4 linked regions of the Homo sapiens genome follow. The protein of the gene in region 4 purifies or fractionates together with the protein of the main gene of each other region. This does not show direct contact. Each region holds a gene or a part of one and is shown on either strand. Other genes may lie near its edges.

What was found.
Region 1: the proteins of ATXN7L3 (region 4) and KAT2B purify together in Homo sapiens (affinity purification with mass spectrometry; 7 studies listed by BioGRID and IntAct, with this or other methods). This does not show direct contact.
Region 2: the proteins of ATXN7L3 (region 4) and SUPT3H purify together in Homo sapiens (affinity purification with mass spectrometry; 8 studies listed by BioGRID and IntAct, with this or other methods). This does not show direct contact.
Region 3: the proteins of ATXN7L3 (region 4) and ATXN7L1 purify together in Homo sapiens (affinity purification with mass spectrometry; 7 studies listed by BioGRID and IntAct, with this or other methods). This does not show direct contact.

The regions. Positions count from the first base shown.
Region 1 is NC_000003.12:20,148,435-20,154,931, reverse strand, and holds the end of KAT2B (histone acetyltransferase KAT2B), read right to left. Parts: coding exon 6,445-6,497; intron 2,601-6,444; coding exon 2,407-2,600; 3' UTR 528-2,406; downstream 1-527. UniProt on the Homo sapiens protein: Functions as a histone acetyltransferase (HAT) to promote transcriptional activation. Has significant histone acetyltransferase activity with core histones (H3 and H4), and also with nucleosome core particles.
Region 2 is NC_000006.12:44,826,201-44,828,947, forward strand, and holds the end of SUPT3H (transcription initiation protein SPT3 homolog), read right to left. Parts: 3' UTR 526-2,747; downstream 1-525.
Region 3 is NC_000007.14:105,873,575-105,881,348, reverse strand, and holds the start of ATXN7L1 (ataxin-7-like protein 1), read left to right. Parts: upstream 1-4,749; 5' UTR 4,750-4,790; coding exon 4,791-4,971; intron 4,972-5,468; coding exon 5,469-5,537; intron 5,538-7,774.
Region 4 is NC_000017.11:44,196,862-44,204,341, forward strand, and holds the start of ATXN7L3 (ataxin-7-like protein 3), read right to left. Parts: upstream 3,024-7,480; 5' UTR 2,635-3,023; intron 2,509-2,634; exon of another isoform or gene 1,692-2,508; intron 1,270-1,691; 5' UTR 1,210-1,269; coding exon 1,159-1,209; intron 891-1,158; coding exon of another isoform or gene 870-890; coding exon 737-869; intron 539-736; coding exon 367-538; intron 166-366; coding exon 68-165; intron 1-67. UniProt on the Homo sapiens protein: Component of the transcription regulatory histone acetylation (HAT) complex SAGA, a multiprotein complex that activates transcription by remodeling chromatin and mediating histone acetylation and deubiquitination.

The sequences.
Region 1 (6,497 bases), on a different chromosome or scaffold from region 4:
TAAAGGTAATACTTTGGCCATCATATGCCTTTTTTTTTTTTTTTTAACTTCTCAGTTGGTTTAGATTTCAGTAGGGAAGAGGGGTTCTCTTGGTTGGGTCCTCTCAAACCCCAAAAGGATATAGTATTCTTTCCTACAGACATCATTTTGAATCACATTAGAAGCTCATATGGGAGATGTTTAAAAATCGGCTGTATTTTTCTCTCATCATATATATTTCACAGATGCAAAGTATAAAAACAAAAATCTTTTAATTTCTAAACCAACAACACTCTTCTTTCAATGAATCTTTTTTGTTATTGTTTAGCGGGTGAGTGGGTAAGATGCAGTGGATAACTCAAAAGACAGAGTAAGTGTCTCTCCTGAAAATCTCTTACTGATGACCTATGGATTTTTTATGAAACCTCCCCCAAATGCAACAGAATGCTTAAGATCTAAGGTTTAAGGATTCAATTGATGGTTATCAACCAGATCATAATTTGTTCTGTTAACCTCAGCCTACTGAATGAATAAAACACACCACAAGATTGGAAGCTTTTTAAAATATAATTTAAAACTATTTTGTACCAGTACAATATATTAATTTTACAAATGTAAAATTTTTATCAGCTGTTAAAGCATTTGCAAAAACCACACATTCTACTTCAGCTTTATTGCACAATATCTATAAGAAAATATTAATTTTTAAATTAGAAAACATAAAAATGCTTTCAATATAGAAGAGACAATCTGATTTTAAAGACAATACTCTATAAGAATGTCTACTCAGAAAATAACAAACTTTCACAGGATACCAGCTGGACAGATGCTTCAGCAGATCCGGTACAAAGCACTGTTTAAAACCAGTCCAAGATACTTAATCCAAACTGTATCATGATTCTTCATTAGAAATCTAGACACCACTCATGGTGGTTTCTTACACTTTAAAAAGTTGAGGCATTTTCAGTGTGAGCATTCTGAATATCTCTTACATATCAAAAACAATACTTCCAACTCAATAGCCATTTGCAGGGTTCTTTTTCCTTCATGCAGATTATCACTGGCAACTGTTTTTAATGACTATTCATGACCATTTTATTTATGCTGATAGAAAACATCAAGTTAAATACGCTTTTAAAACTTTGTCCTTTACAAAAATCAGTGTATAAATTTGCATCATAAAAATTAGTGTTGAGACCATCAAGATGGCCTTCATTTATATGGTTGTATATTAGTTGGTTTTCCCAGAGTTGGGAATGGCAGATGTCTCACTTTTCTATGTAGTGTAATCAGGAAATAAATCCAAGCACTAAACTGGAATCCCAAGACAGATTAATAAGGTTGCATGATGGATTTTAGGGGGTTATGACCCTGGACGCATATACTAATGTGGGTGTTAAAATACTGACAGCAAACCCTGGTGGGAATTTAATTTACCTCAGACAATAAACATTATCTGGAGAGACATAAAGGAAAATGTTCATTTGCATATTATCAGCGTGGCTGTGTGTATCATAGAAAAGAAAAAGAACCTTTATTAGAACGAGGATTCACCAGATTGATACATATATAGACCATACATCTTTTCCTATTAAAGCATGTTGATTCAATCTCATGTGTTTTCAAGTTTATGCCTTTGTGGGCAGGGAAATTATCTTTTGGAACTTATGGCCTGCATAAGCAAAGTCAAATATGATATTACACATTTGTGTAGAGAAAATAATTATTAAAATAGTGGTTATGTACTAACAAGTTTGTTGTAAGTAGACAGAATTATCAAAAACCTAGATGCTTATTTTAAAAGTTTGCATTATTTAGAATTTCTTCCTTAGGAACCAAAGCAGTTGCTTTCCTGGAACTGCATTTTTCAGAACTGCTCAAAGCACCTCATCTAGATGAGTGTTTTAAAAAATATATATAAAAAGTCTATAAAGAGACTTCAAACATCACATATTTCACCTCTTACAGGCTTTTTTAAAATCATGTATCCCTTCCTTAAAGTCCTTCAGAATAAAATAAAAGTAAACTCTCACATTCCATTAGAAAAAAATGGAAACATTCATTCATGGTCTGAAAATGTTATGGATTTCCCCAAATTTTGCTACTGTGTGCAATTTCCTCACACACAGGTTTTGAGGAAACCCCTAATCATCTATCATGAAATAGCTAATGGACATGCCATAGAAAATTTACCTTAATAGTAGTAAATAGATTAAAATCTATTCCATAAAATAAAAATGTCCTATGACTTCAATTTAAATACATATCTGAAAAGCTAAAAGGAGGTTTTTTGTTTTTTCAAAAGTGCTAATTATTACATTTACAAGTCTCTTCAATACATCATGTCCAATTCTTTGTAAAAAACTAAACCACCTTGCTTTAGGCACACTGCTTGGTGAGTTTCTAAGAAGCAGAGGGGAAAAAAAATCACTTGTCAATTAATCCAGCTTCCTTAATTTTACTGAAGAAGAATTTCTCCAGGATATTGGCACATTTGTAGTATTCACTCTCAGGGGGGTTGTACTCTTTGCAATTGGTAAAGACTCGCTGTAAGTCTGCCATGAATAATTTCTTAGACACGTAGTACCTATTCTTGAGGCGTTCACTCATGGTTTTCAGATCTGCACAGGAAAAAAAAATATTAGCAATCTTTGACTCCCTTTAAACACCAGCTGACAAAACTGGGACTGGGAAAGGAATCTATGTTGTTGGTTTGATTACATTTTTATCATCCCAATGCTTTTATTTAAGAGAAATTCTTATGACCAAGGAAAACAGTTCTTAAATCTTAAGTTCATTCTTTTGTGGGTTTTTTAAAAATGTAAAATCACAGCCATTTTAGCATTAAAGGGACCATTATTAGTCATCTGGTTCAATCCCCTATTCAGCACAAGGAAGCTAAGTAGATTAGCAACAATAAGTATGATGAACTGACTACTGTTAGCTATTCAGTCAGAATTATACAGAAGAGGCTCTATCTATATGGAGTAGAGCAGGTGGAACGTTTGTATTCAATCATTTAATTACTTAAAACAATCAGACTGCATTTGTTTCACTAAACTCACAGTTGTTTTGGTGTCATATAGAGAAACTGATAATAAATACATCTGTGAACACACCAGTGCCCTTGCATGTAAAATGATTCAAATGAATTTGCTTCAAGCTCCATCAATGAAATAAGAATAACAAACTTCATTTAATAATCTATTTTCTAAAGCAAGTAAGCCTTGTGAGACTATTGCAAAGAATATTTCCCAATATAGCTACTTGCTTTAAATTGTAGTATTTTACAGGTGAAAACAGTACTCCATCTAAACTGATAAAACTAAAGTAGGGTTTCTTCAATCCTCACTGTCAGGACTAATTTAAGGAATTCTATGCAGATTAGAATAGACGCTAACATTTGTCTATTTATGGTTCCCTGGTTGTCTTGAAGTCTGGCTTTATTGTTAAAAGCTATAATTGTATTAACTATGTGTGGAAAAATAAGTCAAATGGGAAAAAAAAAACCCCACTTCTGACTACCAATATCCCAAATTATAAGTATGTTATAAAATTTCCAGGGGGAAAGAAACCTATAACCAAATACATTGGGATCATCATTTAATAAGGTAAGTAAATGTACGTACAATATCCCCAAATGGGAAGGAATTCATTTGCATCAATATCCTAAATCCACCACAAAAGCATCAAAGAAGAAATGGAAAAAAGCTGCTTCTGCCTATCTCTTGAATAAAGCCTATCTTGGTTAGAGTGTATGTCATCACATCTGTAAATTCAACTTTCAACTTTTCTTTCTTCTCTAAAACAGTTTGGAGAGAGATAAAAATCTAAAAGCGCTAAGAAACACAAAGACTCATCAAATCTCACACTAAATGTCCCATCCAAGTGTGACTGAACAGATCAAAATGTTCTCTCATTTAAAGAAGAAAAAAACAATGAAATTGGCCCTAAGTAAAAGTAGATGTTTACATTCCTTTCACTTTTCCACCTAAATGTCTACCACTTAAGATATGCTGCCCAATATAATATGTATAATGTTTTAAAAGGAAGAAACATGTACCCCCCAAAAAGGGGGAGGGGGAGTAAAAGGATGACACGACACAAAGAAGTTTGTCCAAAAGCTTTTCGAACTTTTTTAGGAGATGGGTAAGAAAAGATGGAGAGAGCCTAAAATGCAGCAGAAACAAAGCAAGAATTATGGCGGTGTCTGGACTTTTCTGAATAACTATAACCAATTCTGAATACTTCCTTTCTATTCTAAAGCTATAGATAGCATTCTTCTTCCTCTGGCCTTCGTAGAGTTTTTTCAATTGACAAAATGAGGTGGGTTAAAAAAGGTGACTAAATATTGGTGGTACCAAATATAGAGACACCATTAAATTATTCAGTTTTCATGTCCTTTCCCCTTAACTTGGGAATTCTGGGTAAGCAGCAAAACCCTGCCTAGCCATCCATGGGTAACAAGAAGTCATGCTTGGGCCAGACTATACAGCTGATGTCCAGTGTGTGACTCCCTAAGTAAAACAGGTTAGATCCCATCCATATGAGAGAAACAGTTTTTCAGAATATGGGGAAAGAAAAGTAATGTTATTAGAAAAATCAAATAAGGAAATCGTGGGAAAATGTAAAATTACTGATTTGTCAATCTTGTCTTCAAATACAAGATAATCTTGGGGACAAGACTAAATATTTTACTCAGCATCTGAACAATACCAAGAAAAAAAATACTGCCCTACTGAAGAACACCATTTATAGCTTTAACTTTGTCCAGCACACATTTCAGCCCATCACTGGCCTTGCTCAATTAGGTCAGTTTCCCCCCTTGTGAGACTCAGCTATGCATACAGGTGGTATCCAACTGGAGAAGTTCACAACCTTCACGGGTGGGACCAAGCAAAACACTTTCAGAAAGCAGGCTGCAAGTAGGCTATGATCGACGAGATCTGCTAGACCTATCGCTGCACGTCATCAGAGTGCATGTGCACAGGGGCTGAAAGGGCCCCAAAGTCACACAGCTTCCCATGGGGGTTTCCCAAAAGAAGCTGAGATGGTCCAGAGGAAGAGGATGCAAAAATCAGTTAATTTATGGTTGGAAATGGACACAAAGAGTTTTAACATATTTTGCACATAGTGGACAATATTGATTCCCAAATCAGCCTTCCATTCAGAATTCTAGACTGAGTCAACCATACCCTTTATTTTCTTGTACTGAAATAAATAGTGGTAAGTCAGAGAGAAGAGAGAAAGAAAAGCATATAGATGTGTGTTCACTTTAAAGGGTGTAGGCTACTGAAATCATTACTACAAATATATAAAATATTCATGTGAAACATTTAAATGCTATAGAAAACACCTGTAAATAACTCAGTTTTCAAGGAGCTAATGCGTCCCTTTCACTCTTCCTTTTCACATTTTTAACACTTCCACAATTTTTTTTTTTTTTTTTTTTTTTTTGAGATACGGTCTCCCTCCAGTGCCCAGGCTGAAGTGCAGTGGTGCAATCACAGCTCACTACAGCCTCAAACTCCCAGGCTCAAGTGATCCTCCAACCTCAGCCTCCCAAGTAGCTGGGGCCTCAGGCGTGTGCCACTGCACCTGGCTAATTTTTTACTTTTTGTAGAGACAGGGTCTCACTACATTACCCAAGCTGGACTTTCACAGTTCTTAGCACCTGGAATAGATTACAGGTAGAAAAGAGACAGAAGACTCTGGCTCTCTCCAAAAATATGGCCACATAGCTGATAAAAAGAAAACATTTCAACTGGTTGTCACCCACACAATGCCAAATTAGTTTAATTTGAGCGACCTCAAATGATTCAATTAATCATTAATTTTAGAGTGGTGTGGGCACAGCACCAAACTGCACAATTCTACATTTCTGAAGACATCCTTTTTTGTTTGATTTTGGATATGAGACAAAGCGTAAAATAAAGAGTATATACAGTGACATTAACAGTACCCATCAAGGGCATGGAAAATCAAGAATTGTGGTAAGTAGAATTTCTCCCTCTGAAAGTACAGCAGTCAAGTACTTTAATCTAACTTCTTTCATTATTATCCTGAATAATTATTCAAAGGAATACCTATTTACGACAGACGCAAAGCATATCAAGAGGATAAGCTGATGTTTTTCTATTTGCACCAAAGAGTTAGAATATAAGCAAAGTTATATCTAAAGTGCCAGCTTTCAAATCTAGTGCTGTCTGCAGTTACCGTGGATTTTCTGCGTCTAGTGTCGTTAAGCTCATGTGGGCTCTAAACGACAGCTGCAGAATGTCTCTAATGAACACAGCCACCCACTTCTCTGCCATCACTGACCCGCCACGGTGCATGGAATCCCACCACCCGTCATACACTTCCTACCCTAAGCAGAGGAGTACAAATCAACCTCAGCAACCATTTGTCCCCCACACCGCCATCCAGAGTTTTAAATCTATACTTAGAAAATGTTAATGGTATTACCCATGGGGAACCTTATAACTTCATAATATCCTGGAGCTTCTGTTCTCTTCACA
Region 2 (2,747 bases), on a different chromosome or scaffold from region 4:
AAGTTTTGTTGTTTAAGCTTGGCTAGATGCCCTCTGCAGAAAGCCTTTGCTTTAATGAACACAATTCCACAAAAACTGCTAGAGTTCCCTGCTCTCTTCTCACCCCTGCCACTGTACAACAATAGCATGTAAAGTTTCATCTTGAGTTTCAAATAAGAAGGTAAAAATAAGAAACTGTGTTGCTGGAGAATTAGCTCTTTGTAGTGGCCACTGCTATGACATATTCAACTTGATGCCCTTAGATTATTTGCAGAGTGTTTATGTACTATGAAATGTTCGGCCAGAGCATACAGGAAACTGTAAAATATTTTATGAGATGTATACATGGTTGATGGTAGAATTTTAAATGTAGCCTGGAAAGGTTCTATCCAAATTCCAGGGGGGCAGATGAGAGAATATGTTCTCTTTAGTGATTCAGTTTTACACAAGAGGTTATATGAACTGGAAAGCATTGCCTGATTTGAGAACTACGTAAAAAAATTCATAAAATTAAACTTTATAATTAATTCTAAACAAGTAAACATGTTTTCTTTCAGACCAAGAATCACCAGTTATGTTTATTTGTCTTCTACATGGTAAAAGCATCAGACATGGCTTGTTTATTATTTTATAAAAACAAAGAACAGCAATAAATGAAGGGTTCTCCCCAGATACAGGAATTATATACACCATTTAAAAAATATTTGTGCTTCTGATGGTTTTCAAATAAAAAGTCTTGGTTTTAAAATTGAAACAGTATTTTTGAATCACAACGATTACAATCTAAGAAGGCAGGAAAGCTAATGGCATAACCCTCTAAATGGCACGTTCAGAAAGTTATACTTCCAAATTTAGGTGAAGGGAGAAATATTTCTACTTTCTTTACCCTTAAATCTAGGAAGCAGTATCAAGAGACGCTATTTATTTATTGGCTTATTTATTTTCAAATTCAGTCTCTAAAATACAAGGGACAAAAAATAGAAACTAGCTTTGTATATTTCCATTTGACTTAGAGTTAAGCCTGATGTGTAAGATAACAGACTGTTTACTTAATACCACAGTCACACTGAAGATTTTACTATATAACACGTATGCTTTAGGATGTATCCATAATTAGTACAGTTTTTAAATAAATTTACATCGTTGTCTAGGATAAATATGCCATAAAACCCCAACATGTCTTAGTAATATTCTTATGCTAACCCAGTATGGTAGAAAATACTGTATAATACCGACTGAAAATTAGGGACCATCGATTCTCATCTCTGGTCTGTCACTACATTATTGAGTGATCTTAGGAAACTCACTTTCCCTCTCTAGGCCATGGTTTTTTCATTTGCAAGATGAGCAGCTGTTCTTAATGATCTCTAAGACTATCTTCTGCTCTAACATTATGATTATTGAGAAAATAATTTACTGAAGTTTTCTTAAACATTCCTTCTGTAAATTTTCTTTTGTTTCTATAGTCACTGCTGAAGGAAGTTTTATTTCACTTCAAATTTAGTATTGTGCAAAGAGTCAGAGAAAGAACCTAAGTATAAAAAATAGAAAAGGGAATTAAAAATATTGAGCAATTATGGGGACATGTAGGCTGGTTCAGGACAGACATAAATGACCTTGCTTTATTCTAAATTCAGCTTACTGGCTTATGATGAAAAATGAAAGGTTTTATATGAACTTACTGGGCAAAACCAGATTTTATAAATAATTACCTGTCAGACTGTTCAAGATAGACAAACATATGCCAGACCAACAAAAACACAGACCTGTCATATTTCTGAGAGAAATGTACATTGAGTCTTCCTTCTCTGGGACTATAAGGAGATCAGGTGGAATAAAACGAAGGAAAAAAACCCAAACCCTATATTTTCTGCCTTGTGCATACTTTAAAATGTATAATGTGGGAGAGAAGGAATTTTGATGTGAAAAATTATCCCCTGAAAATTTTATACCATCTATAAGCCTGGCAGATCAAAACCAAATACAATAAATGCTATCGTTTAAAAGTTAAGTTAAGTTAGGATGTTTACTGCAAGCTTGTAATTTTCCATGATTATGGATGCCAAGGAAAATAAGAATGATAAAAAGTTTAATCATAATCATACATTTTAACAAGCATAGATGGAACATCAAAATCCTTTGGGAATATTTTGATATTATATATCTATCCGTGCTTTTTGTTTCTGAAATGCAAATTTTTTCTAAAAAGATTAACATAGAGCAGGTAAATGACAGTTAACAAATGTAAATAATGTGGCATAATAATATTAACTGAGCCTCATAATTCTTTGAGTCTGATGGTTTTCAAATAAAAAGTCTTGAATTTAAAATTGAAACAGTGTTTTTGAATCGCAACTATTACAATATAAGAAGGCAGGAAAGCTAATGACATAACCTCTAAATGGCATGTTCAGAAAGTTTTATACTTCCAAATTTGGGTGAAGGGAGAACTATTTCTACTTTCTTTACCCTTAAATCTAGGAAGCAGTATCAAGAGAGGCTTGCTCTCTTGAGCAGTATCAAGAAAAAGGAGCAGTATCAAGAAAAAGATCTTTCATGTTTCTCATTTCTGTTTTTATTAATTCTTTAGAAAGAGTGTTTCAAGTATGTGTAAAAACCATAAAAGTAAAATTATACAAAACTCCCACAGAATTAAAGAAATAACTTTCTTTTTTGCAACTGAAGTTTAATCAGGAACTGTACAATTACATCTGCTATATTTTGGTTTGTTCCAAAGAGTTACGGTTCCTCATTTACTGGAGAAAGTA
Region 3 (7,774 bases), on a different chromosome or scaffold from region 4:
TAGTGGTCAGGAATGGGGCTGGATCTGCCACATTCTGGGGAACAGAGATGACCTCAACCTTCAGCACCAGAGCAGTTCCAGGGAGCACCAACTGGCCAAAGTCACAGGTGAATCAGTCAAGAGTTTTAAGACAGCTTTCCCTTGAGATAACACACTCCCGTGCTGGCTGTTCTGACCCAGTCAGAATGCAAATGTTTGTGTAGTTATATTTATTAATAGAGTCCACGGTTAGCCAGGCCTGGCACATGGCTAGGGCTCTGTATTGAAACCAATAAGTAAAAGCCTGGAATTTCTATTTTCGTTCCCACTCCTGTTGCTACTGGGGGCCTTTTATCCAGTCCTGTTTTTAATCCAGCAGCCTGCAAGGGGCAGGAAAGAGGCAGGTAAAGTTGTCTAGCAAGGCAGAGTAGAAGGCACACCTGCCCTCCAGATGCCGAGAGCTTTTATAAAAGGTAACAATGTAGGTAACAAATTTCCCCCAAATTATAATTCTCAGGGAGAAAGGGTTAGGGAAATAAATTTAGAGAGAAGAGTGGCAGATGGGACAGATGGATTCAATTAAGGCAAAGAACATCAAATAATTCCAGGGATGCCTCATTCTAATGGAACATGTCATTTTCTCCTCATTGCCTCCAGGTAACTCCCAACAGTCTAGGTAGGAAGTAGGGTGCTCACACCGTGCCTCAACCACGGCAGGAGTTTAATATCCTCAAATGAGAGAGCTAACATTCCCTCTTCTCTTCTTTTCAGTAATGTGGTGAAACAGCACATGAATCAGACTAAGTGAATGCAGGATACATAATAGATGCACATTTCTACAGAACCAGGTGTTATTCAAGTTAAATAGGTATTTTCCATTGTCATTAAAACAGAACAGATTTCTTTATTTGGTCTATGGGAGACTCTCCCTTTTAATTAAACCAACCACACTGTCATTTTCCTAAGAAAGATAATAAAACAATAAAAATATTTACATCCTTTTTTCTTCCTAAACATTAATCATGAGGGGAAGAGGGTGTTTTGCCTTTGCTAGATAGTTTTATCACATAGACATTATACTAATATGCTTTAAATTACTGTTTTACAGGTCACTTTATCCTTATTAAGGATGTATTAGATTCTTGTTGCCTCTAACAGCATTTGTAATTATTTACTACCAAAAGGAATTCAATTCTGTAATAAATCGATCACCATATATAGTTGATATATGAGTATTGATATGTATATAATACATACACAGCATGTAAACCTGAACACTACTTCCAACTGACCTCAATTTTCATCCAAAGTCAAGTGTAAATGTCTAGTAGTTTGATGAGCGATGCTTTCTTTATTCTCTGCCTCTCAGTTATGCAATTTGATTGACAGTCATGTTATCCAACACAGTCATAGATGGGTTATAGTTTCAACAAGTCAGTATTATTATGTCTATAGTCAATGGAGAGACTGGAGAAGGCTTAGAGTAAAGCAACTCTACAATTATACTCCATAACTAACTGCAACAATGTAGACATACTCTGTTATCAATTAAATGTGGCAATGCCTGTGAAGTCTTCTTTTGTAGAGATGCTAAATCACTTTTAGATTCTAGCCCACAATTTACCGTACTGTGGAGTAAAATCATCCCAAATAGAAGGAAATAATATTTGGGCTGTCAGACTCTCTTCAAGGTCCTGTGTAGTAACCTCCACTTGACAGACTCTGCTGGGAAAGTAAGCTCATGTTAAAATATGGAACCACTGATTTGCTTCACTATAACTGAGGTGTCCTGACTTCTGATGATAAGCCACCTTTGATTTTTTTGAGTGGTTTACAGTAGCTCCCAGAAGAGGAGACAGCATTCTGGAAGCTCAAGTCACTGACTCCCAGCAAGTGGCCCACTCACATGGCTACTAGCAGGATTAAGCTCCTCACTGGCTGTTGTATTGAGGGCCTCAGTTCCCCACTGGCTGATGACCAGAGGCCTCCCTCAGTTACCTGCCACACAGTCCTCTCCATAAGGCAGCTTACAACATGGAAGTGGGCTTCCCTTAGAGCAAGACAGGGCATGCAAGAGAGAGTGAGAGCAACAGAAGTGACAGCAGTTTTGTACCCTAACCTCAGAAATGACATCCCACCACTTTTGCTATATTCTCTTTGTTATCAGCAAGTGACTAAGTCTAGCCCACACTAAAGAAAAGAGGATTACACAAGGGCATGAACACCAGGAGGTACAGACCTTTGGGGCCACATTAGCTGCTGCCTACACCTTCCTTGCATGCACAACAACACAGGAATAAACATCAAAATAGATAATAAATAGAGGGAAAATAGGGAAGCAGAAGGGAAAGGGAAAGTGTTCCAGCATCTAATTACTCATGCCTCAGAGCTCTCGCATTCTCTCTCCCCACCTCTAAATCTAGCCCAACAGCACACCCTCTGATCAGGTGCTCTCTTCACAGTCTCACACCTGTCTCCTCTTCTCTACCTGCATAGCACCACCAAAGTTCAGGCTTTCATCTCTTCACACCATGAATATTGCAGCACTACTTTTCTAACCAGGCTCCGTACTCCAATCTTTCTAACTCACACTTTTAACTTATCTTTATGGTACAGAAAGCCCTTCAGTAGCTCCCCATTGTCAAACAAAATCCAGACTCTTTAGGCTGCCGTTTGGTGCCTTCCATAATTTGATCCAGGCCTGGGTATCAAAATGCATCACCCCCAAGCCCCCAGTAACAATTCTCCATCCCAGGCAAACCATGCTCAACACCCAAACACACCATGTTTATACTCAGCTTGAAGCCTCTGCTAATACCATTATTCCCCCTCCCTCCGCAAGACCAGTCTTCACCTTACCATTACAAATCTTTGGCAATTTCCAAGATGCAGAGCAGAGCCCATCTTCTGTTACGCAGTTTCTGTTCACTCCTAACTAGATTTCGGTTCCTCTATGAACTGGCACAGCTGAGAGACCACCCCACCCACTGCACAGGCCAGTCCCTGTGTACCTGCCTGTTTTCCCAAGGAATCGGTAAGTTTCACAACTTCCTTCTTCCAGAGACCACCAGACTGCATCTCTGTGAGGGTGAGGATGGGTCTCACTCATCTTTCCCTCCTGACAGGAGGGCACAGCTGTTCCATGACAGGCAATATTGGTTGACTTAAGATGGACAGATGGAAGGAAGGAAGGAAGGAAGGAAATGTCAAGCCCAGGGTCTAGCATATAACAAGAGGTCAACAAGTAATACATATTTGTTAACACCACCAATTCTTACAATGGGAATTCTTCACCCAGCGACACCTTAGCTATGTAGGAGCCCTTCGAAAGAGAGCAAAGGCAAATGCAGTTTATCTGAGTCTGACACAAACAAGCCGACTCACACAAACATCACAACTAAAGGCAAATCCGCAGCTCCTCCTTCATCGCCCATCCTAACACTGGCTTAGCGATACAGGGTGCCAAGCTCAGGGAAATTATTAGATGGTTCAGCCAGGGCAGAACTCAGTCAGTACAAAGCAACTTCCAATCAGTGCGCTTCAGCTGTGACAACTTGGGAAACAGCAGTGGTGAGAGCTAAAAGGGTGCTGGCGAAAGAGAAAAAAAAATATGTCGCTTGTGGGGTGAGGGCGGTGTCCATATAGTTTAGATAATTCTAGTAAACAAAAGGATTTGTTAAAAAGAAGTAACAGAAGACTTTTTAAAGCCTTCTTTAAAGGGTGAAAATCTCAACTAAAGCACCCAACGTCCAAAATCCAGAGGAAATCTAGCGCTCCCTTTCTAGCTGGCTAGAGCAGTTAAGCCTGAAGTGAATTCTCCCAGGAATCAGATTCCTGGCCAAAGGTTGCCTGCGCAAACCCGGGCCACCCTCGTCTCACGGCAGGGAGCGCTGGAAACGGCTCAGGGGCTAGGCCCGTTAGCGTCGTCTTCCAAGAGCCGTAAATTCGCCCTCCCGCTCTGCTGACCCTGGAGCAAAGTCCATGCAGTGGTTCTCTGAGAGCCGGAGATACGCACCGCGCGGGGAACCCGGGGGTCCGGGGGCCCTAACTTTTGAGTTTTGCACGCCCCGCAGCCTGAGATGGGAAGGTAGCTCGTAGCGCTCCAAACTCACCTGCGTTTCAGAACGACATCTACCCACTGGTTTCAGCTCCTAGAGCAACAACTGCAGAATCTCCATGGTCCAAAGTCCTCCAGGAAAGAGAAGAAAGGGGTGACGGGGGTGAGGGCTGGGAGGCGAGGTCACCAGGGTCCCTTCCCTGGCTCGGGTGGGGGTGGGGGGCGCAACCCCTCACGGCTCCTCCCCACCAAGCCGTCGGGACCCCAGCGGGGGCGCCTCGCGTTGGGCGACAGGGACGCGGGGAGAGAGCGACAAGCTGGAAGCAAGGGCTGCCTGCAAAACTTTCGGTCCTCCAGCGGCAACTCTGCGGGAAAGACCACCCTTCCTTCGGCCCCGCGTCGGGCCTATCCCCGTGTGCCCCGACCCCTGCGCCCCAGGCTTGGGCGGCGCCGCTGCATCCCGGCTGCCGGGCGCGCTGCAGCCTTCGCTCTCCCGCACGCGGCGCTCGCCCGTCCGCGCTGCCCCTCCCCGGCAGGCGGGCGGCCCCGGCGGGCGGGCGGGCGCGGACTGCAGGTGCCTCTCTGCTGCCCCTGGCGGCCGCGGGCGCGCGAGCCCCACCGAGCCGGCTCCGGGAGCCCGAGCGCCCGCCCCTCCTCCGCTCCCTCTCCCCTCCTCCTCCGCCGCCCTCCTCCCATCCCGCCCTTCCTCCCTCCCTCCCCCTTTCAGAACACTCAATGTCGGAACGTTCCGAAGATGACGTCGGAGCGTTCTCGAATCCCGTGTCTCTCGGCTGCTGCTGCCGAAGGAACAGGGAAAAAGCAACAAGAAGGAAGAGCAATGGCGACACTGGATCGCAAAGTGCCCAGTCCGGAGGCGTTTCTGGGCAAACCCTGGTCCTCCTGGATCGACGCCGCCAAATTACACTGCTCCGACAGTAAGAACCCCACCACCTCCTCCTCCTTTTATTATCCTGTAACCTTTCCATTCACCTAGAGCCACTGGGAAAAAGTGTGTGTGTGAGAGAGAGAGTGGCCCCCGGTGTCCTCCATGCTTCTCCCTCTCTCTCTAAATAAATACACACAGAGACAGATCATCAATGCACAGGGAGAGGCCCGGCTGCCAGGGCTGTCTGTCTGTCTGTGCCCGGCTCCCCGTGGCAGCCCGCGGGGTGGGCTCGCAGCCCCACGGTGTTGTCCGTTTAAAAGGCTACTTTGTTGCTGCTTGCATAGTTTTTTGGGTACCTATCTGGGCCAGGTAGATGGAAACCCAGACTTGGGAGAAAATGTTGCATTGTCAATTTTTGAAAGAATTTCATATACAGTATTTATATCGATCTGTTTGCAAATAAACACTCTCCCTCCCCCCTTGACTTTGGCTTTTTTCCCCCCTTTTTTCCTTATTTTCTGTTTTCCTTTTCTTTTTCATCTGCAGATGTAGATTTAGAAGAGGCTGGAAAAGAGGGTGGAAAAAGCAGGGAGGTTATGAGGCTTAATAAAGAAGGTAAGTGGAGCTACTGGCATTTTAGTGTTAGCATGTGTGGCAGAATCTTCACAGGATTTCGAATATAATGTGAATTGTTCTGCTGGGTACAGAGTGACTAAGGCTTGTCAAAAATTGAGCACGCCCAGGTGACTACTGCTTCATGTTAACTTCTTTCAAAGTATAAATACAACTGGGGGGGGGGTAAAGGGGGGTGAGACTGTTGAAGGCAGAAGTTTACTGCACTTCAGTTGGACTCCACGTTTGAACCTTCTGATGCATATCTGCCATTCTCCTTGGGAGCATCATTGCCAAATGGTGGGGCGTTAAAATTTCTGAAATGAAGAGTGGAGTTCCCTTCACAAGCATCCCAGCCTTTCTCGTGGGTGAATGCACAACAGCTTAATGAACCCCACATGGTCAGTCATTCCAGCAGCTACTTCTCCACTCACCACTGAAAACCATTGTACATGGCAAACCTTTGCAGCAAGTTACATTTGGCCCACTTTGCATTTGGTCACAGATTGTTATGTGGCAAGCAGGGTTAGGAGCATCTGTATGTGCAGCCCCTCAGCAGTCATCATCTCTCTTTTCCCAGCATGGAAATACGGTACCTGAAATGGGACACACTGAGTAGATAGGTCATCCCAGACCAAGATATGCAAGAGAAGCCACAACCTGCTGCAATTGGGCATCAAACACATATGGTCGTCATAAATAAATCATATCCTGTTCTCATTTGCAAGCCTGCCGTATGTAACTCTGGCCTATGGGCTTCAAATGGAGCAACTCCGGGGGCCACTTGCTGCTAAGCAAATAGGTGGATTCATTTGAATTGTGATTCACTAACTGATGTCTTATAAACATAATTGGCTGAAATTGGGGGTGGGAAGATGGCACAAGGGGACAGAAGAGGTTGGTGGTATTGAAAGAGTTCAGACATAAGTAGGCCATAGGTGCATTGGTCATCCCAAATGAATGGAGAAAAGGCCATTAGATGCCAAAGAATGGTCCCCCTCATAAAAAGGGATGTCACCCTGGAAGGCAGCTGAAGCCTGCGTGGAAAGATGGAACTCATTTTATGAATCAACACTTCAGATGGTTGGTTTTCTGTGCCCAATCATTTCCTGACCATCCACTGAGAGGAAATTTTGTGCTTCAGAAAAAATAACATGAAGGTTAAAATGCGTACATATTCAAGGACAGTTCCCTAGCATAATGTTTCTGCTAATTAAGCACTTTGGGAACAAAACATTATTCTAAAGATGTTTGCTTCTAAATATCTTAGTGTGATCTTGACAGGTGTCTTCAGGATGCACGAGGGATTGATGTCAAGTGGACTTCTTACAAGTGGCAGCTTATTTGTGTTAAATGTTCATGTGTGTTGGCAGTGGGAAGCATCACTAGAGATTATTTTTCTTCACACACAAACTCTTGAGATCTCTAAGTGCTTGCAAGACCCAGTTATCAGGCTACTGGCAACGTGTCCATAAAAGATGATGAGGCTGTGGAAATCTTTAAATTAAAGTTGAGTAAAGGTCATGGTATAGCACAGGATTGTCACCTCTCAGGTCTGGGTGATGCGTTATGACTATCACACACAAAACTCACATCCTTTCCCCCCAGTCCCTGTTTCTATTTCAGAAGACTGTTGTTCTCAGATTCTCTTTGCCTCATGAGAAACAGATTTTTTTTTTTTTTTTTTTTTTGATACGGATTCTCACTCTGTCGCCAGGCTGGAGTACAGTGGTACGATCTTGGCTCACTGCAACCTCCGCCTCCCGGGTTCAAGCGATTCTCCTGCCTCAGCCTCCTGCATAGCTGGAACTACAGGCACGTGCCACCACACCCAGTTAATTTTTGTATTTTTAGTAGAGACGGGGTTTCACCATGTTGGCCAGGATGGTCTTGATCTCTTGACCTCGTGATCTGCCCACTTGGCCTCCCGAAGTGCTGGAATTACAGGCATGAGCCACCGTGCCTGGCTGAGAAACGGATTCTTTTAAGAAAAAATGAAAAGCTCTCCTTTCCTCAGAAGTCACAGGTGGTACATCCCGCTTATTAGGTCCTTTGTCCTATAAAGGTACGAAGATTTAGCTCCTAATTATACATATTTGCATTAAGGACACCCACTGTTCAGTGTAACTTGAAATTGCTAACTTCACCAAAATAGCCATATATGGGCTGAAATCTCTTTGTTCACAGGCCTGGTGGAACAGACTTGGGTGAGCAATTCCTGATGGTCTTTCTGGTATATA
Region 4 (7,480 bases):
TGTATACCCAATTCCTGCTTCCCACCTCATCCCAATGCCCCCCGGGTTTCCCCAGATCCCCAAGCACCTTTCTTCTCCGAGCCATAGGACCAGTCGTTGTCATTGATGTCATCATTATCTTCTTGGTCACTCTCAGACTTATTCATATTGTTGCTATTGGCAATCCTGCCAAGGGGAGGGAAGAGAAAGGGGCCAAGGGGAAGGAAGAGAAAGGGGTCAAGGTGGTCACCCCGCTCTGCCCCCAACTTCAGAAGCAGGTGGAGCATCTGGGGCCAAGTAAAACCCACCCTCTGTACCTTCCCAATGCCCCCGGGGGACTACACCATGGCACAGGCTGCAGAGAACGGGCAGCTCTGGTTCCCTCACCGGCGGTTGGCGATTCGGCTGCTGTTCCGACCCATTCCCAGGCACTTCTCCAGATGGGGAGCAAAGCGGGAGGCGGCAATGCTGCGACTGCAATTGGGGCAAACACACTCCTTGCTCTTCCACTGGTTGAAAACCTGTCCAAAGATGTCCAAGCCCGGCTGGTCCACGATCTCTGGGGACAGGAGAGGCTGGCGATCAGGGTGGGCAGGACCCTCTCCTCTTGTTCCCACCTGGGGTCCCACGGCCTCTTCAATCCCTCCCCCGGCTCACAGGAGCTCCAGGTGCTACATCTAGCACAGTTTCCAGAGAAGGAAACTCCAGGCAGTCCCAGGGAAGGGCTGGACTGCTGCTCCTTCACCCTGAAGCTCACCAAAATCCTTCATGCTATCAGGGTCCGTGTCGTCCAAGAAGAAGTAGCCACACTTGACAGCCCGGTGTACCTCAAAGCAGAATCCCAAACAAGAATCCTCGACCAGGTCCGCGTATATCTCCTGAGCGATGGCCTGGGCCCCAGGGGAGAACATCTACGGTCACAAGAGTCACAGCCCCCTGGACTCTCACCAACCAAATCTGCTGCCAACTGGCCCCAGCCAAAAATCATGCTTTCTTTGCCATTTTCCCCATCTTGACTTCGTGTTCTTTCTTCTTCCTGGATCCTTGGCTTTTTCAGCTGGCTATTCCCTTTAAGGAACAAGGCTGACTACCCAAATTCCTCTTTGGTGTGGATGCCAGATACAGCGACGTAGAGACATCAAGAGAAAGAACTGGAGGCACACGTGGGGGAGCCCTCACCTCTAGTTTGCTGTTATCCAGGCCAGACAAAGACATTTCCTCCATTTTCATTTGTAAACTCTTGTGGAGACGGCGCTCTGACTGCTCATAGCACAGCGGGCGGCAACACGGCTGCACACACGGGGGTGGGGGTGTTGTTGTGAGTCCAAGGCACCTCTGAATGCGGCCACCTTCCCTCCCCACCTCGCTGCCCAAAGCTCAGTCCTGGCATCAGGGTCTCTCCCTCCCCAAGGCCCAGGCTCCCTAAGTCTGGATGGTCCTTCAAGGCCTGAAACCTAAAGGGGGCCTAGTCTTTCCCAGGCCTGAGCTCAGGCCCTGGACTCCACTGCCAATCAGAGTCTGGGTCTATAGGAGGCAGCAGCTCACCCTAGGTCCCCAAAACTCAAACCCCTCTTTGATACCCATGGTGCAATGCAGCAGGGGGAGGAGAAGGAACTCCAAGGCCTCAAAGCAAACCCACAGGGTGTGGCAAAGAACTGCACAGACTCCTAAATACACCCCCCGCCTTCCCTAAAGACTCTCCTCAGAGTCACCTCTGCTTTCAGCCAGGATGTCCACTTGGGGGGGTACTGCTACCAGAAGTAGAAATGGCCCTAGGACCCTACAACCTTCACCCCACTCTGTCTTCCCTTGAAATCAGCCTGCCACTCCACGAGGGGAGCAGAGCCCACAGGAGCCTAGAGCTAAGGGACATTTCTAGCCACCATGAGCAGGAACGGCGGGGGGTGGGGGGGAAGAGCCTGGTAGGGTGGCACGCCAGGAGCGGGCACTCCCCTTACCTGTTCTTCCTTTAAATAACCACCCGCCCTCCCTCAGGACCAGCCCGGAAGTCTCTCCAAGAGCCCCAAAGTCCAGGAACCCCCACCCAAGGATTCAGACACAGAACCCACAACCCAGGGCCCCTCGGAACGGTGGGTACGAGTTTCAGGAGCTGCCGGCCTAGAGTGGGGTGGGGACTGACGAATGAGCCGGGGGCACTGGGAAGGGTAGGAGGCCGGGCCTCGGCTCTTCCCCCGTCCCTGCGGCACTGCTGCTGCATCATACCGACTGGGGGGAGGACAGCCGAGCCGCCGGGGCCGGCGCCGGGCCGGGACAGACCGACCCCCAGAGAGTGGGACGCGTCCCAGCCCCTCTCCTTCCCCGCCCGCCAGCAGCCCCGGCCGGCCGGGGAGAGGAGTCCGGGAGGGTGTCTCTATTGTCCCGGGGGCTGGGGCCTGGCTCCCTAACAAAGGCCCCGCGCCCCCTCCCCGGCCGGCCCTGCCCCGCCCAAGGGGGACCCAGACGGGGGAGAGCCAGGGGCCCCGGCCCGGCCGGGAAGCTGGGGGAAGCCGGGCGTTTCCGCGTCGGCCCGGGGGGAGGGGAAGGGGCGCTGACCCAGACCTGGGGGGAGGGGGCCCAAGCCCCGCCTTGGGCCCCGCCCCCCGCCCCCCACAGGCCCCTCCCCCGTCCCCGTCCCCGTCTCCGTCCCGTACTCACCCCGCCCGGGGGGCCGCGCCGGGGCCCGGCAGCCTCTCAGGGCCGCGTCCTCCGGCGGCGGCGACGGCGGCGGCTGCTCCGGAGCCCCATGTCCGTCGGTCCGTCCTCGCCTCTCCCCGGGGCCCAGGGCCCGGGGCCGGGGGGTCGGGCCGCCCCCCCGCCTGGCCGCCTCACCGGGCGGCCATGGCCCCTTCCCCTCCCTTCTTGTCCCGTCGCCGCCTCCTCCTCCTCACCTCACCCCGCCCGCGCGCAGTCCGCGCGCCGTCCGCGCGCCCCTCCCCCCGCCCCCCACTCCAGCCCGCCTCTCCCGGGCGGGGGGTGCGGCGCGAGCCCGGAGCGCGCGCGCGTGTGCCGCGACCGGAGGATGGATGGATGGAGCGAGCGTGAACGCGAGCGTGCGCGCGCGCGCCCCTCTCCCCCTCCCTCTGCGCGGGCGCGAGGCCAAGCGCGAGCGCGCTCCAACCTCCTCCTCTTCCTCCTCCCGCCCCTCCCCAACACCCCGCCCTCCCCCTCCCTTCCTCTTCCTTCTTTCGCTTTCGCGCGCCCAGCGACTGCTCGCGCCTGCTAGAAGGGCCCGAGCGCGTGCATCTGCCCCGCGGCCGCAGCTCGGCAGCATTTGCTCCAGGGGGCGGGGACCGGGAGGGGAGGAGGGGCGCCACGCCGCCGTCCAAAGTACCGGCGGACGGGGACGGGGGCGGAGAGATGGGCGGGGCCTTCGCGGACCTCCCCGACCAATCGCAGGGAGGCCTCGGCCCGGGAGGACCAATAAGATGGGGGTGGGTGGGGCGGCGTTCAAGGTGAGGTGCGCGGTGCGCTGGGGGCGGAGACGTTTTGCCGTCCCGGCCGGCTCGGGGGCGGGGGCAGCGGGTGGCGTCGAAAGAGAGCGCCGGCTGCCAGCCGAGCCTGGGACGCCTTCCGGCCCAGGCTCCCCCGCCCTTCCCTCGGGGCTCCCCGCTCTCTCCCCCGCCACCCTCCGCTCCCCCCTTTACCCCGAGGCGTGCAGCCACTTCTGTGAAGAGGCCAGACTTGAAGTGGGGCGCAGTTAGGACCTCGGGGCGGAAAGCCTGTGGAGCCTAAGGGGCTCGCCCGCGCCTCAGTTCTCCCGGTTTCTGGGCGGGTCTCAGCCCACTCCAGGCTTGCGGACCAACAAGCGGCCGAGATGAGGGTCCGCTGCTGAGGTCGGAGGCCGAGCTGCGCCCTTCTGCGCGGAGCGCCCTCCCCGCCCCTCGTCCTAATTTAGATCCCACACCTGCTCGCCTTTCCTGCTTCCGGAACCCACGCTGGACCCCCACCCCTCCAGACAGCCTCCTTGTCACTGGCCAGATCCTTCCCCCGACCCAGTGCTGTTCCCCTGGGTGCAGCGTGTCCCTGTGCTCACGCTCTCAGTCCCTCTTTACCTTAGGAAGGGACAGGCCTTTTCCCAGCCGCGGTGGATGGCTGGATTGGCGCTTTCATCTCGGTTACTCTGTGTGTGGTGTCCTGGAACGGTTGTGTGACAGCCCTCTCCCCTCAAGAGATAAGATTAAAAAGGAGGATAGTCTGTAATCACATACTTGGAGCCATCTTTGGTTTTTAGTTTTCAGCAAATACTTATTTTTTTCTCACCGATTTCTCCCGAGAAACAGCAAACATTTATTGAGGCGATATTCCAGAGTAGTTCAGATCAGGCGTCTGATTTGAATTTAAATCGTTGGGCCTAGCAAATGAGTTTCCTGTGCCTCAGTTTCCTCTGTTGTCAGTGGGCATAATGATAGTCCTATCTCCTTGCGTTGCTGTAGTGATTAACAAGTCAGTGCATGTGAAACTCTTAGCTCTGTGTAAGTGCTTGGTAAATCTTAGCTGTTATTCTCACGGTGCTCCAGGTGCTGGGATAAAAGATGATATAAGACAGTTGTGCTTCTTCAAGAAGTTCACTGTCTTGTGGATAGATAGGTAGGATAATAATTGCAAAACAGTGTGAGGAAAACAACAGAGAGAAAACAGAGGTAGACAAAAGGAGACATCAAATGATGTAAGAGAGTTGGTCAAGAAAGGCTTCTTGGGCAGGGTGCGGTGGCCCAGGCCTGTAATCCCAGCACTTTGGGAGGCCAGGAGTTCGAGACCAGCCTGCAAAAATGCAAAAATTAGCTGGGCGTGGTGGCGGGCTCCTGTAATCCCAGGAGCTACTCGGGAGGCTTAGGCAATAGTAGTAATCCAGCTACTCGGGAGGCTTGGGCAGGAGAATCGCTTGAACCCGGGAGGCGGAGGTTGCAGTGAGCTGAGATTGCGCCACTGCACTCCAGCCTGGGCAACTGAGCGAGACTCCGTCTCAAAACAAAACAAAAAAGAAGAAAAAGAAAAACTTCTTATAGAGGGAGATGAACCAGGTGAAGGTAGGCCAAGAAGGCATTGGACATCCCCAACTGGAAGCTTCAGAAGCATGGATCAAGCTGGAACAGAGGAGTGGGTGGCAGAGCAGCAGGAGGTGAGCAGGCTGGATAATACAGGACAAAGCAAAGTAGGTGTTGAAAAGTTTGTGGGCTTTAGCCTGTAAGCTGTGAGGAGTCCTCAAGGGGAATCATTCACCAGACTTATATTTTTAGTGGATCATGCTGGAGTATGGTCTGGAGAATAATTTAGAAGCAGTAGGTTTTTTGTTTTGTTTTGTTTTGTTTTTTTAGACAGCATTTTGCTCTGTCACTCAGGTGCAATCTCAGCTCACGGCAACTTCTGCGTCCCGGGTTCAAGTGATTCTCATGCCTCAGCCTCCTGAATAGCTGGGATTACTGGCGCACGCCACCACGCTCGGCTAATTTTAGTTTTGTATTTTTAGTACAGACAGGGTTGCACCATGTTGGCCAGGCTGGTCTCGAACTTCTGACCTCAGGAGATCCGCCTGCCTCAGCCTCCCAAATGCTGGGATTACAGGCATAAACCACTGGGCCTGGCAAAAGCAGTAGGTTTTTGTTACTGATTGAGGTGTGTGGAGGAAAGGAGAGGGAGGTCTTGAAAACACCTTTACTAGGATGGGGAACTCAGGGGAGGACATGGGAGGACACAGGATGACTTCAGTCTGGGATATATTGAGGTTACTGTGGGATCAGCTGATGGAGACCCAAAAGGTGGTTGAACTCAGGTCTGGCACAGAGAAGTAAGCTAGGTCTTCAGGAACTTCAACAACATCGCCTCAACCTTTGTTTTCTCTTATCTCCCGCCTCCTTTTCAGGAATTCTTCACTCCAGTGATGCTGATCTGTTTCTTACCTAAATATGCCCAGTACATTCTGCCCTAAGGAATTTGCGCCATGGCCAGAAAATCCTCCTGGCTTCTCCCTGTTTACCTAAATCCTTCCTCATATCCCCACCCATGGCCATCCTCATACCAAACTTCTTTACAACTAGACTGTACTATTCATTCTGTGCTTGGCCTGGGCTGCTCTGTGGTGGTGACCTCTTTGGGCACGTGCCCAGTCTCCACAGTTAGCACCAGTTCATAAACACTAAGGCCTGAGCTGGTCCTGACTCTGGGTGAGGCCCTGGGGTTACAGCAACAAGCAAGAGAGACACACAAACCTTGTCCTAGCGCAGCTTACAGCCTAGCAAGGCCTGATGTGAAGGAAATAAGGCCTGAGTGTGAAGGCATTCAGGCTGCTGAAGAAACGTATAGTGTGGAGACCTTTTTTCTCAGGAGTTCAGGGAAGGAAGTGGTCTTTTAAGTGGAGACCAGAATTAACTAGGCAGAGAGAACACCATGTGTATAGGCCCTAGGAGAGAGCATGTTATGTTCGAGACATGAATGGTCAGTGTGGCTAGAGTCGGGGGAGGGCTAACGGGGGCAGCAGATCCCCAAGGGCCTTGTGGGCCAGACCTATTCACCCACTCAGCAAATCTTTCTTGATTGTCAAATGTATATCAGGCAGTTTCAGGTGCTGAGATTACTGTAATGAACAAGCAGATAAGGTGTCTTCTACTTGGGGAGATAGATAATAAACAAATACATAAACAAGAAGATGGAGGAGGCCTCTCTAGAGCAGGTGGTTGGGAAAGGCTTCTCTGTGAGAGGACATGTGAGTTGAGGCTTAAAGAATGAAAAAAAAAAATCAGGTATGTGTAGAGTTGGAGGAATAGCCATTCTAGGCAGAGAGAACAGGTGCCAAGACCCCGCAGGTAGGCATGTTTGAGGAACAGAAGAGATCACTTGGTTGGATCGTTGTAAGTGGTTAGGAAGAGCAGGGTGAGAGAAGATAAGAGAAGGAATGCGGGGGCCAAGCCTTGTAGGGCCATGGTAAGACATGGTAAATTTTCAGTACAGAAATAATCAGATTTATTTCTGAGATAATTTTGGCTGCCATGTGAAGAATGGGCTGTAGGGGGCGAGAGTGGAAGCAGGAAGACCAGCTTTAGGAGGTCTTTGCAGAAGTTGAGCAATGATGGTGGCCTGAAATAGGATGGGAGTGGCAGCTGTGGGAGCCACCCTGTGGGAGGGGTCGACAGATTTGAGACAGCTTTAGGAAGTGGAATGGAGAGGTCTAGGTGATTGAACCTCGAGGTGAAAGGGAGAGAGGAGTCAAGGCCAATACTCTGCTTTCTAGGTTGAACGACTAAGTGTTTGGTAATCATTTCGGGTCTTGAGGTATGAGATGTCTGCAAGATATCCCAGGGGATGCAAGGGTGTCTACACAGGTCTGCAGCTTGGAAGAGCAGTCTCTGTCGGCACCACCTTTCGGAATGGTTGCATATGCGTGATAATGGGAGGTTGAAGGGAGAGACATGAACACCTGGGATAAAATGAGGAAGAGCTGACACCAACAGAGTAGACCAAGAAGGCAAAAGACAAGACAAGTGTTCACCAGATGTAATGAACATGT